Linked DNA regions of Homo sapiens: region 1 is linked to region 2. The links come from fine-mapping of genetic effects on gene expression. Tissue or cell type: skeletal muscle. Region 2 holds a variant in brackets; the other region holds the start of a gene. All regions are shown on one strand. Distances are from middle to middle.

Region 1 (5,753 bases), 51 kb before region 2:
TGCTTATTATTTGTCAGATAGTAATATTGTGAGCTACGTTTTAACTTTCTTTAAAGTCATATCTTTGATGTTTTTATTGTTACCAAAGTAATACAAACTTCATAAAACTGCAAGCAATATTGTCATATAAAGACCATATTCATAACTATCACACTAAGCAAATAATTTCCTCTTATTTTATTACATTTATACGTTTATGTCATTCTGAATCTCAAATACAAAAAAATGCATAATGAGAAATTGAGACATTTGGGATTAGTATTGTTTGGTAACTGAACCCATTCCTTTTTTTTTTTTGAGGTGGGGTCTTGCCCAGGCTGGAGTGCAGTGGTGTGATCTCAGCTCACTGCAACCTTCACTTCCCAGGTACAGGCGATGTTCCCGCCTCAGCCTCCTGAGTAGCTTGGACCATAAGTGCATGCCACCATGCCCGGCTAATTTTTGTTTTTGTTTTTTTCTTGGTAGAGACGGGATTTTGCCATGTTGCACAGGCTGGTTTTGAACTCCTGGCCTCAAGCCATCTGCCCGCCTTGGCCTCCTAAAGTGCTGGGATTATAGGCGTGAGCCACCACACCTGTTCTGAACCCATTTCTTTGGTGCTTTTTGGATGGGTTTGTTGTATTATATATGGTTAGATATCTTTTCTAGCAGTATTTTTTTCCCCTGTAACCATTGATTGACTGCTCTTGGATGTTCTGAGAGACAATATCCAAAGTCCCAATTAATAATTGTGACTCCCTCACGCACAGTCTGTAGAAGGCCCAGAGTGACAGGGAGGCAAACTCAAAGGCCTCTGGTGGCCAGAAGGGGTGTGGAAACCTGCACACATTGCATGGATGGTGGGGACTGGAGGAGCAGGACATGCTCTATCAGGGGGCAGCTGGCTCTTTGGCTGCAGCTGGTTGTCGTGTCACATGGGAGCGTCAGTTCATGATGCCAGTTCTTTTGTTTTTAAGAGAGCCAGAAATCTAGATTTCTACGTGAATTTTCTCATTTAGAAAAAGTTCATAAACTTGATTTAAGTTTATAAAACATCCTGTTAGCCAAACAAAACACGTAGGCATATGGCCTCTGGACTAATCAGGAGTAGCTGGGCCTACTGCCCCTCAGGTCTGGGGGTAGCTGCGGGATTTCTTTCCTTGGGGCTGTGCACATGGCTGTGTTAAGCTTACAGGGGAAACTGTTGGGGCGACAACTGTTGTCAAATCATTCCACTTTCTTTTTTTCTTTTCTTTTTTTTTTTTTGAGACAGGGTCTTGCTCTGTCACCCAGGCTAGAGTGCAGTGGTGCAATCTCGGCTCACCGCAATCTCCACCTCCTGGGTTCAAGAGATCCTCCCACCTCAGCCTCCCCAGTAGCTGGGACTACAGTCACGTGCCACCACACCTGGCTAATTTTTGTATTTTTAGTAGAGACGGGGTCTTCACTATGTTGATCACGCTGGTCTCAAACTCCTGACCTCAGGTGATCCACCAGCCTCAGCCTCCCAGAGTGCTGGGATTACAGGTGTGGGCCGCCACGCCCAGCCAAATCATCCCACTTTCTATTCATCCTTTCATTTGGCAAACCTGAAGTGAATACTATTTCCTCCCACTCTTTTAGGAGCCCATCTCTTGCTTTTAATGTAAAATATGCATAATTTGTGTTTTAAGATTACCATCAGTTTCATGAAGAGCTTAATTTTTCCCATGGATGAAGTGTAAGTGGGTACCTGATAATATATCGTGAGCTTAACATTTTCCAAACCCTGTTTCTTGGCCCTAAATCTGCCCCCTTCCTTCCACCTCCCAAGTGGAATTGACATCTTTGCTTCAGCTGCAGGAATCTGACCTTGCAACAGGCTCTGGATAAGCCCTATTAGAACAGCCAGAGGTAGAGAGACCAGGAGTGGCTGCTCTTGTGTAATCCCATACAAGTGTCAGTATCTGTTGCCAAATACTGAAAAGGAAGCCAGTTCCAGCTGATTACCATAAAACTTTCCCAGCACTTGTGGCTTGGGAGGCGGAGGAAGCAGGACAGCCTGATAAATGTGTAGAAAGGATGCATGAGAGATCCACCCTTGTAAGGTGAGGTGGTCTAATATGTTGACTATCTGCACAGGTGAGCCTTTTTATAGAAAGCAAAAAATATCTGGAGACAACTTTGCTTGCATCTCTACACAAATTTCATGTTAAAATGAAATCCAGAAAAAACCTCGGTCAGAAGATGCAGTGCTTCTGGCCTAAGGCTTTTCAGATTTCAGTTTATCCTCCCAACCCCACCCCCCAGGAGCACAGAGTTTGTTTGCTGTTCTGGTGAAGCTAAACAGTAGTTGGACAGTTGACTTCATTGGAAAACGATATTATTTTGAAATGAGGCTTGGTTTCCTCGGTCAGTGACCTGCTTAGAGAGAAGCGGTGGGTCTGCACCTGGATTTTGGAGTCCCAGTGCTGCTGCAGCTCTGAGCATTCCCACGTCACCAGAGAAGCCGGTGGGCAATGAGATCATGTCTGCTTTCAGGTTGTGGCCTGGCCTGCTGATCATGTTGGGTTCTCTCTGCCATAGAGGTTCACCGTGTGGCCTTTCAACACACGTAGAAATAGGTAAGTACTGGTGTCTTGTTATGTTGTTGAGAGGACAATACATCTGTCAAAGACATTAAGGAAGAGACTGAAAATCCCGCTCGTGGATTGATACAGTTTCCCCTGGGCACTGAGCTGAGTGGCCTGACAGCAGGGAGGAGAAGCCGGTGATTGCAGTCATCCAGGGATAGGGATTGGCAGCATGACTTCAGTTAAGGGGCAAATAAGAAAGAGAGCTGATGCCCCATTGGTCATGGGACCCCTGTGTGTTTCTCTGGGTGGGGAAATAGTGAGAGGCTCAGTGAACGAGAGGTTGCAACGTGGCAGCAGAACTGACAGAATGGGAGAGGAACAAGATGGGTGGAATATGGCAGGAGTGAGAAATGTACTTTTGTTGTTTTTACATGTCCAAGGACAGGCATTTCCAAGTATATGTAAAGAGCCATATGTGGCCATGGGAGTGGGTCCCTGAGTCAAATTGCTGTAAAAGTGCTTGGCTTCAGGAAGGTCAAGAAAGTAAGGGAGTTTAGTTATCCACATGCACGGTGCCAGGAAGATGGCAGGAGTTGGAGAGCAGAAGGGTACAGCAAGCCAGTGCCACCGACCTTAGGGGCAAGGGCAGAGTCATCCTGGATATAGGGAGATGGCACCACAAAGAGTTATTTAAAATTTTTATTTTTCTAGCTTTATTGATGTATAATTGACAAAAATTGTATAAATTTAAGATATACAACATGATGTGTTGATATATGTATGCCTTGTGAAATGATTAGCACAATCAAGCTAATTAACACATCCGCCCCCCCCACATAGCTACCATGTTTTTTGCATATGGGCTGAGAACACTTAAGATCTTTCTTAGCAAAAGGATTTGGTTCTTGTATGAAGTGTATTTGTAACATGTTTTAACGCATGGAAAACGTGAGTCAATTTGTAATAGAATTAGCTGTGATAACATTCTACAGCAATTTTCAGATTAATTTCAGATATACCTGATGTTCTGAGTTTTCTTTTTTTTTTTTTTGAGACGGAGTCTCGCTCTGTCCGCCATGCTGGAGTGCAGTGGCGCAATCTCGGCTCACTGCAAGCTCCGCCTCCTGGGTTCACACCATTCTCCTGCCTCAACCTCCCGAGTAGCTGGGACTACAGGTGCCCGCCACCACGCCTGGCTAATTTTTTTGTATTTTTTTTTAGTAGAGATGGGGTTTCACCATGTTAGCCAGGATGATCTCGATCTCCTGACCTTGCGATCCGCCTGCCTCGGCCTCCCAAAGTGCTGGGATTACAGGCGTGAGCCATCGCGCCTGGCCTGAGTTTTCTTTAATTTAGATAAAAATTATAACAGAATTTTATAGTTGTACCACCTCCAGAAGTTTCAAAGAATAATAAGATTATAGGCAAAAAATGAAAATTTATCAGTGCAAAATAGACATATATACTGAGCTACGATGGGCAAGAACCTGTTATCACAGAATTTGACTATCTGAAAGGACACTAGAAGTCACCGAGTCCAGTTCTCTTCTTTTACAGATGAAGAAACTGATACTAGACAGTTTTACAGCTAAGTTTTCAGTGGCCTGGCCTAGAATTACATGTCCTGACAGCTGGTCCGGCGTTCTTTCCATTAAAAATGTACTGCTAGAAGGGAGTCAGGAAACAATGGAAAAGAGGATCAGACTTAGGTTCTAGTTCCAGCCATCCAGTAAAGTAGATGTGTGATTCTGAGCAATTCACTTTTTACCTACCTCTCAATTCTATAAAATGAGGGGGTTGAACTTCTTAAAGAATTCTAAAGTGTCTTGCAGTTCTATGTTCTGTGAAGTTGAAATTGCCAAAACTACAGAGTAAGCTGATGAGGAACAAATATAAATGGAAATACTCCATTTTTAATCCTTAGTGTTTAAAAATTTACAAGACAGATTGCATCTGAAATTTTAATAAAACCAGATAATTGCTTGCCCTTCTTCATTAAGTACCAAACAAAGGTCCTAATGGACATTTAAAGAATAATATTTATGTGAACATAATTGAAGGCATCTCCTGAAATAGAATCTGCACGGATTCTGAGAATTTTTTTACATAGAAGAAGACCAAAACTCCATCATTTATTTACTAATAAATTAGATGATTTTATAAATATTTTGGTTCACTTTTTCATTTCTTATAAAGGGGCCTGAGTGGAAGGTCAGCATTATCTGAGTGAGTTAATTAGAAATGGCTTCATTCAGCGTAAATCACTGGAATCCTGTACACAGGTTATTTGTATTTGTGGGTTGTGACTTTTATGATATTAATGCTTATAGTAGTGGCAATAGTTTTTTGTTATATGAATTTTAAAAATTGGAGGTGATTCACAACAGAAATAAGGTATCACCTTTGAATGTCACTTCCCAGGGAATGTTAGTCCTCTTATTGATTCTTGGGAGATTCAGGCTGTGGGTGGGTGTGGGGTGTAGTTGGTAGCTTTCTGAGATGATTTTGTCCTTCTGGTCCAATGATGAAAAACTTTTGAGGATCATTGGTTCAGTCCATAGGTTAGGTGTTATATTGTATTTTGTACTTAGGTTTGTCTGCCTCAGTACTGAAGCAAAATATGATGACAGTTTCTTTTTTTTTTTGAGACAGAGCCTCGCTCTGTTGCCCAGGCTGGAGTGCAGTGGCGTGGTCTCGGCTCACTACAACCTCTGCCTCCTGGGTTCAAGTGATTCCCCTGCCTCAGCCTCCCAAGTAGCTGGGATTACAGGCATGCGCCACCATGCCTGGCTAATTTTTTGTATTTTTAGTAGAGACGGGGTTTCTCCATGTTGATCAGGCTGGTCTTGAATTCCTGACCTCAGGTGATCCGCCCTCCTCGGCCTCCCAAAGTTCTTGGATTACAGGTGTGAGCCACCATGTGTGGTCTGGCAGTTTCTTTTTCTTGAGCTCCTACCAAGTGTCAGCCACTGTGCTTGTCACTTAGCATTTATTATTTCAACCAACCTATACGGTGGGTATTTTTTAAACTCTTTTCCATAGGAGGGAACTGAGGTCTAGAGAGGTTGAATAGCACTAAAGCTCATAGAGTTATTTAATAGTTAAGCAGAAACTTTAAATCACCATCTAAACTTGCTTTGTACTATAACAATAGAAATACTGCACAAGCCTATACCTAATGAAAATTGCCAGTGAGTGCAAACTCATTTCATTTCCTGC
Region 2 (5,753 bases):
TTGGTATCTGTGAGAGGCCCTGGAACCAATCCTTCGTGGATACTGAGGGATGGCTGTATTGTTTATAGTAGTAAAAAGCTAGAAATAGCCTAAATGTGAAAAGAATCAGATTTAAAATTTTATAATCCACAAAATCTCCATTTTGTTTAAAATGTGTGTTTATAGATATCTGCCTACCTACCTACCTATCTCACTTTCCAGAAAGAAATATATATAGTATATACATTTTCTTCTTTATGCTTTTTTTTTTTTTTTTAATAGTTGGAGTCTTGCTATGTTGCCGAGGCTGGCCATGAACTTCTGGGCTCAAGTGATCCTCCCATCTCAGGTTCACAAGTAGCCGGGACCACAGGCATGTGCCACAACACCTGGATTATGCTTCTTTTTTTTTTTTTTTTGAGTATTTTTTACACTTTTGATAATGATCAAATATAAAAGATCTTCTTGACATCTTCATAGTTTTGACTTTTGCAGTAATCCTGAAAGCTGGTGACATTAAGTAACTTACAGTTGATAATTTTTCTTTTTCTTTTTAAGCCATAGGGTCTTGCTCTGTTGCCCAGGCTGGAGTTCAATGGTGTGATCACAGCTCACTGTTACCTTGAACACCTGAGGTCAAGCGATCCTGCCGCCTCAAGCCTCTTGAGTAGGTCAGACTACAGGCACATGCCACCACACCCTACTTTTTGTAGTGATGGGGTCTCACTGCATTTCCCAGGCTGGTCTTGAACTCATGAGCTGAAGTGATCCTCCTGCCTCAGCCTCCCAAATGCTGGGATTATAGGCATGAGCCATCATGCCTGGCAAGTTTATAGTTTTTCTGAGACACAAATATGAACCACATTACAAGATGATATCCTCTTTCCTGTGGTTTTCAAGAGAGTAGAGTTGGTGAGATGCACCTGTGTTTCACAATAGCTCTTTTGTTTTCTGCTCCCTCCACTGGAAGAAAAGTTCCACATGAGAAGTAAAACACTTGTGTGTGTATTTAAAAAATACCCACCACCCCTGCATCCCAAACACAACCCTAGGGACTAGTGCTCGTGGCAGAAATTAAGGCAATATGGAGGTCTAAAAGATAATGGTCCTTAATCAGAGGGTTTAAGCATTACAGAAGGAATTCTATGTTAACTAGAAGGTATAAGCATTACAGAAGGAATTCTGTGTTATAGTAGCATTCTAGAATTTGGGAATTCATAAAGGCCTCTGCATGTAGCCCTTTTAAAAGCCAAAGTTCTTCAGAATTATTTTCAGTACTGAAATAATATAGAAATGCCTACAACATTACCTTGAGTTTTTTCTCCTTGTCTAAATGTGTATGATAATCCATTGTTTAATTTGCATGATTGAGAAGGTGAGGTGTTTTGAATGGCTGAAATTTCCAAGTGTCTAGATTCTTCTGTTTTAATTCTGAAGAATTAAAAAAACACTTTGATGAAATTATTTTAAATTATATGCTTCTCTTCTTTAACAGACTGTGATGCGTGTTAGAGATTTGGGAGTATTGATTAATTACAATTCTTCCTCATCCTTGTGCATTTCAAATCATTTCTGAAATAGATTCATGAATCATTCAGAGGGATATCAAAATATGTACTTTTGAAGAGCTGACATAGTTGGATTAGAGAACACAGTCTCAATGGGCAGCCCTATTCAGGCTTTCTAATTCTTGCTCCGAAAGCTAGACCTTGGGGTGACTTCTCTGAGATTCTCCCACATGCACTGGGGCCAGTGTTCATCCTGTGGGCGGCAGAGCCAGAGGGAGAAGCCTCAGGTATCCTCTTGCCATGGAAGGACTGAAGCAGGGAGTAGACAGAGAGCTGGAAGTGTTACTGGATTCCTGGGCGCTCCAGGGAGCTCATGGTTCCTTTAGGAGGCACGAAAAGAAAGGGAATGTGGCTGGGCTTGGTGGCTTGCACCTGTAATCCCAGCACTTTTGGGAGACTGAGGCAGGCAGATCACGAGGTCAGGAGATCAAGACCATCCTGGCTAACACGGTGAAACCCTGTCTCTACTAAAAATACAAAAAATTAGGCGTGGTGGCGCGTGCCTGTAGTCCCAGCTACTCGGGAGGCTGAGGCAGGAGAATCGCTTGAACCCAGGAAGCGGAGGTTGCAGTGAGCCGAGATCACGCCGCTGTACTCCAGCCTGGGTGACAGAGTGAGACTCCATCTCAATAATAAAAAAAGAAAAAGGAATGAAGATTTTCTCTTATTTCAACTTTTCTTGATATTTTGGGCTTTCACTCTGAATATTAACTGTTGTGCTGGCACATTGTTCTCTTAGGAGACATTGTGTTAGGTCATGTTGTTTGCCCTGTATCAGAAAGCTCCAGATTGCTGAGCTTTTAAAATACTCTTTCTTATTTCCTACTGTTTTCTAGCTGTTATATCTGACTGTTGTTGCCGACTCTGCTTTGAGCCCTCAGTGGCTTCTAGTGGACAGTTTCCCATAAACAAGGCACAAGTTTGTCCGAAAAAACAGGTCAGATTAGCTCAGTTTTACACACAAAACTCAGTGGACGCTGACGTGAGATTGTATCCACGCACTGACACTTTGCCAGCATACGGCAAACTTCTCAGAGGGCCACTAGCCCCATCAACCCACAGGTGCCATTTATATTTCTGAAATCAAAGCTGTGTTCCAAATAATAAAGTTTACAGCGAAATTCCAACAACTAGCTTTGAGTTTGTTCAAAATTCATTAATTCAAAAAACACTTTATTGAATACTTGTACAGAACCAAGCACCATGCTAGGTACAGTGGATAGAGAGACAGAGACGTGACCGCATTTCTTGTGGAATGGGCGCCTGATGCAGGAGACACAGAAGTGAATGCAGAGCGATGCTGCCCTGCCGTGGGTATTCAGAAGGCACTGGGCACAGCTCATGTCCCCTGTAAAATGCTTACCTGAACTCAGAGGTCCTGGGGTCAGGACACAATCACTTGCCCATGTTTTGTGGGCCCCAGCTGTCTGCAGTTCTTGCAGTTCTGTAGCGTTTGTGCCCAGAGCTAAAGTCCCACTGGACTCGGTGTTATTATGTATGGGAGCACA[G/T]GGAAGCGGCCTCTTCTCTAGACCAGCGAGATTAGGAAAGGCTTCCCAGAGGAGGGGACACCTGAGCCAAATTCTGCAGGGTGACAGGAGTAGCCAGCAGAGGGATGTGGACAGGGGAGCACGCGGAGCATATGCCTCTATTCCAGGCAGAGAGCACATCATGTCCAAAGGCCCAAATTTAAGACATAGATTGGGCTGTGGTTTAAGTTCATTTTGGTGAAGTGTGGGTGAAAAGGTTAATGGCGCTAGATCCCCAAGTGGGAGTCAGATTCTGTAAGGCCTTGTGAAGAGTTTGGACTCCATCCAGAGTCCACTTGCGTTTGGATGTGTCAGTCATGGGGGTGACCTAGTTTGTGATACGAGAAAATAAAAAGGTGGCTGTGTGGAGACTGTATTATGGGGATAAGACTGGAAAAAAGAATACCTGCCTGGAGGGAAATCACTGAAGCTCTCTGGTGTTTGTGCCTTGGTGCCCAAGCTGGTTGTACCTCCCTGACTGCCGGAGATGACCAGCTCCGAAACCGACTGTCCTGTAGGATCCCGAGTGATCAGTGTCACTTGAGGATGGGGTGCTATTCCGTGTTCTGTAATGCCTTCCTTTCTGTGAGGCCAGCAGGAACTGTGGTTCGTTTCAGATGACGTGTCTAAGGTGGCATTCCTGACCGTGACCCTACACCAAGGCGGAGCCACTCGCATGTACGCACTCACATCTGACGCGCAGCCTCTGCTGCTCAGCACCTTCAGCGGAGACCGCCGCTTCTCCCGATTTGGTGGCGTTCTGCACTTGAGTGACCTGGATGATGATGGCTTAGGTAAGAAAGGAACAGGACCCTTTGACAAGAATTGAGTCCCTTTGCCCAGGGGGTGGGTCCCCTAATTGGGTCATCTGGGCTCTGCCCTTATAATTGACAGCCCAGTGGCCCAAGGACCTTTAGACAGATCTTGAATGAGGCAAGACCAGAGAGGGAGTTGCACTTCTTGAAGCTGGTAATATGAGAATCACCTGTAGTAATTGCTATTGATGAATGAAGTAGGAAACAAAAGCCTTTGCCAGGATGAAATCACAGCCGACTAAAGGAGATACTAATATTATTTGTAAGAGGTTGGGTTAGGATCCAGTAGCGGAACAAGGAAAAGATGACAGTGAGGAGTCAAATACTTCCTTCTGTCGGTTTTTATTGTTTTCAGATGAAATCATCATGGCAGCCCCCCTGAGGATAGCAGATGTAACCTCTGGACTGATTGGGGGAGAAGACGGCCGAGTATATGTATATAATGGCAAAGAGACCACCCTTGGTGACATGACTGGCAAATGCAAATCATGGATAACTCCATGTCCAGAAGAAAAGGTAAGTGTTCTACAAAATTCTATAACTTATTGGGAAAGGATCACTAATTGCTGATTCCTTGTTAACTCATGTCCACTATAAAGTGCTTACCTGAATTCATACCTCCTAGGGTCAGGACACCATCATCTGTCCATGTTTTGTGGGCCCCAGCTGCCTGCAGTTCTTACAGTTCTGCAACATTTGTGCCCAGAGCTAAAGTCCCACTGGACTTGGTGTTATGTAGGTCCCTGGTCACACAGCCTGCCACTGCTTGGTTAGGCACCCACAGCACAGAAGAAAGAAAACAGGCCATGGCCATTGGAGTTTCTCTTTTTAAAATAGAGACGGGTTCCTGTTCCATTGCCCAGGCTGGAGTGCAGTGGTGTGATCATGGCCCACTGCAGCCTCAAACTCCTGGGCTCAGGTGATTCTCTTGTCTCAGCCTCCCGAGTAGCTAGGACTACAGGCATGTGCCACCACACCCGGCTAATCTTTTTATTATTTGTAGAGATGGGGCCTCACTATGTTGCCCAGGCTGGTATTGAACTCTTGGGCTCAAGCAGTTCTTCTACCTGGCCTCACAAAGTGCTGGGATTACAGGCATGAGCCACCATGCTCGGCCAGCCACTGGAGTTTCATTAAAACGTCCTCTCTTTTGCTTTTTGTTTCATTTCTTTGTTTATTCCTTTTTTGGGTGAGTTTCCTTAAGTTACATTTCCTGGGCCTAAAGCATTTGGCCATTATTTAACTTTTTTTTTTTTTTTTTTTTTTTGAGACAGCGTCTGGCTCTATTGCCCAGGCTGGAGTGCAGTGGCACGGTCTCGGCTCACTGCAACCTCCTCCTCCCAGGTTCAAGCCATTTTCCTGCTTCAGCCTCCCGAATAGCTGGGACTACAGGCATGCACCACCACGCCTGGCTAATTTTTTGTATTTTTAGTAGAGACAGGGTTTCACCATGTCGGCCAGGCTGGGATTACAGCCCAAAGTGCTGGGATAACAGGCATGAGCCACCGTACCCCACCTATTTTAAAAAATTTAAAATTATTTTTTAAATTGCAAAATTAGTGAAAGTTTATTATGGAAATTTTAGAAAATACAAAAATGTACAAAGAGAATTAAAAATTATCTACCTAAAATTCCACTCTGCAGAGCTAATACCTGCTTACCTTTAGAGCGGATCCTGCTAGTATTTTTCCTATGAATTTAATTACTACCATTTATTGTGCATTTAGTATGCATATGCTAAGAACTATGTATCATTTAATCCCCATAAAAGCTATGAAATTGGCCGGGCGCAGTGGCTCACGCCTGTAATCCCAGCACTTTGGGAGGCTGAGGCGGGCGGATCACAAGGTCAGAAGATCGAGACC

What was found. PIP is the estimated chance that this variant, and not a neighbour inherited with it, causes the effect.
Region 1: GPLD1 starts here. The variant in region 2 is fine-mapped to the expression of GPLD1 in skeletal muscle (GTEx, PIP 0.97).

Annotation. Positions count from the first base shown.
Region 1 is chr6:24,486,244-24,491,996 of GRCh38, reverse strand. It overlaps GPLD1 (glycosylphosphatidylinositol specific phospholipase D1), which reads left to right and starts at 2,419. Exons shown (of 25, transcript NM_001503.4): 1 at 2,419-2,582. The coding sequence starts at 2,486.
Region 2 is chr6:24,435,227-24,440,979 of GRCh38, reverse strand. It overlaps GPLD1 (glycosylphosphatidylinositol specific phospholipase D1), which reads left to right. Exons shown (of 25, transcript NM_001503.4): 21 at 3,691-3,867; 22 at 4,244-4,404. Among named protein-coding and RNA genes, the nearest start is that of MRS2, 35 kb to the right of the region's middle. The variant G/T (reference allele first, on the strand shown) is at 3,056.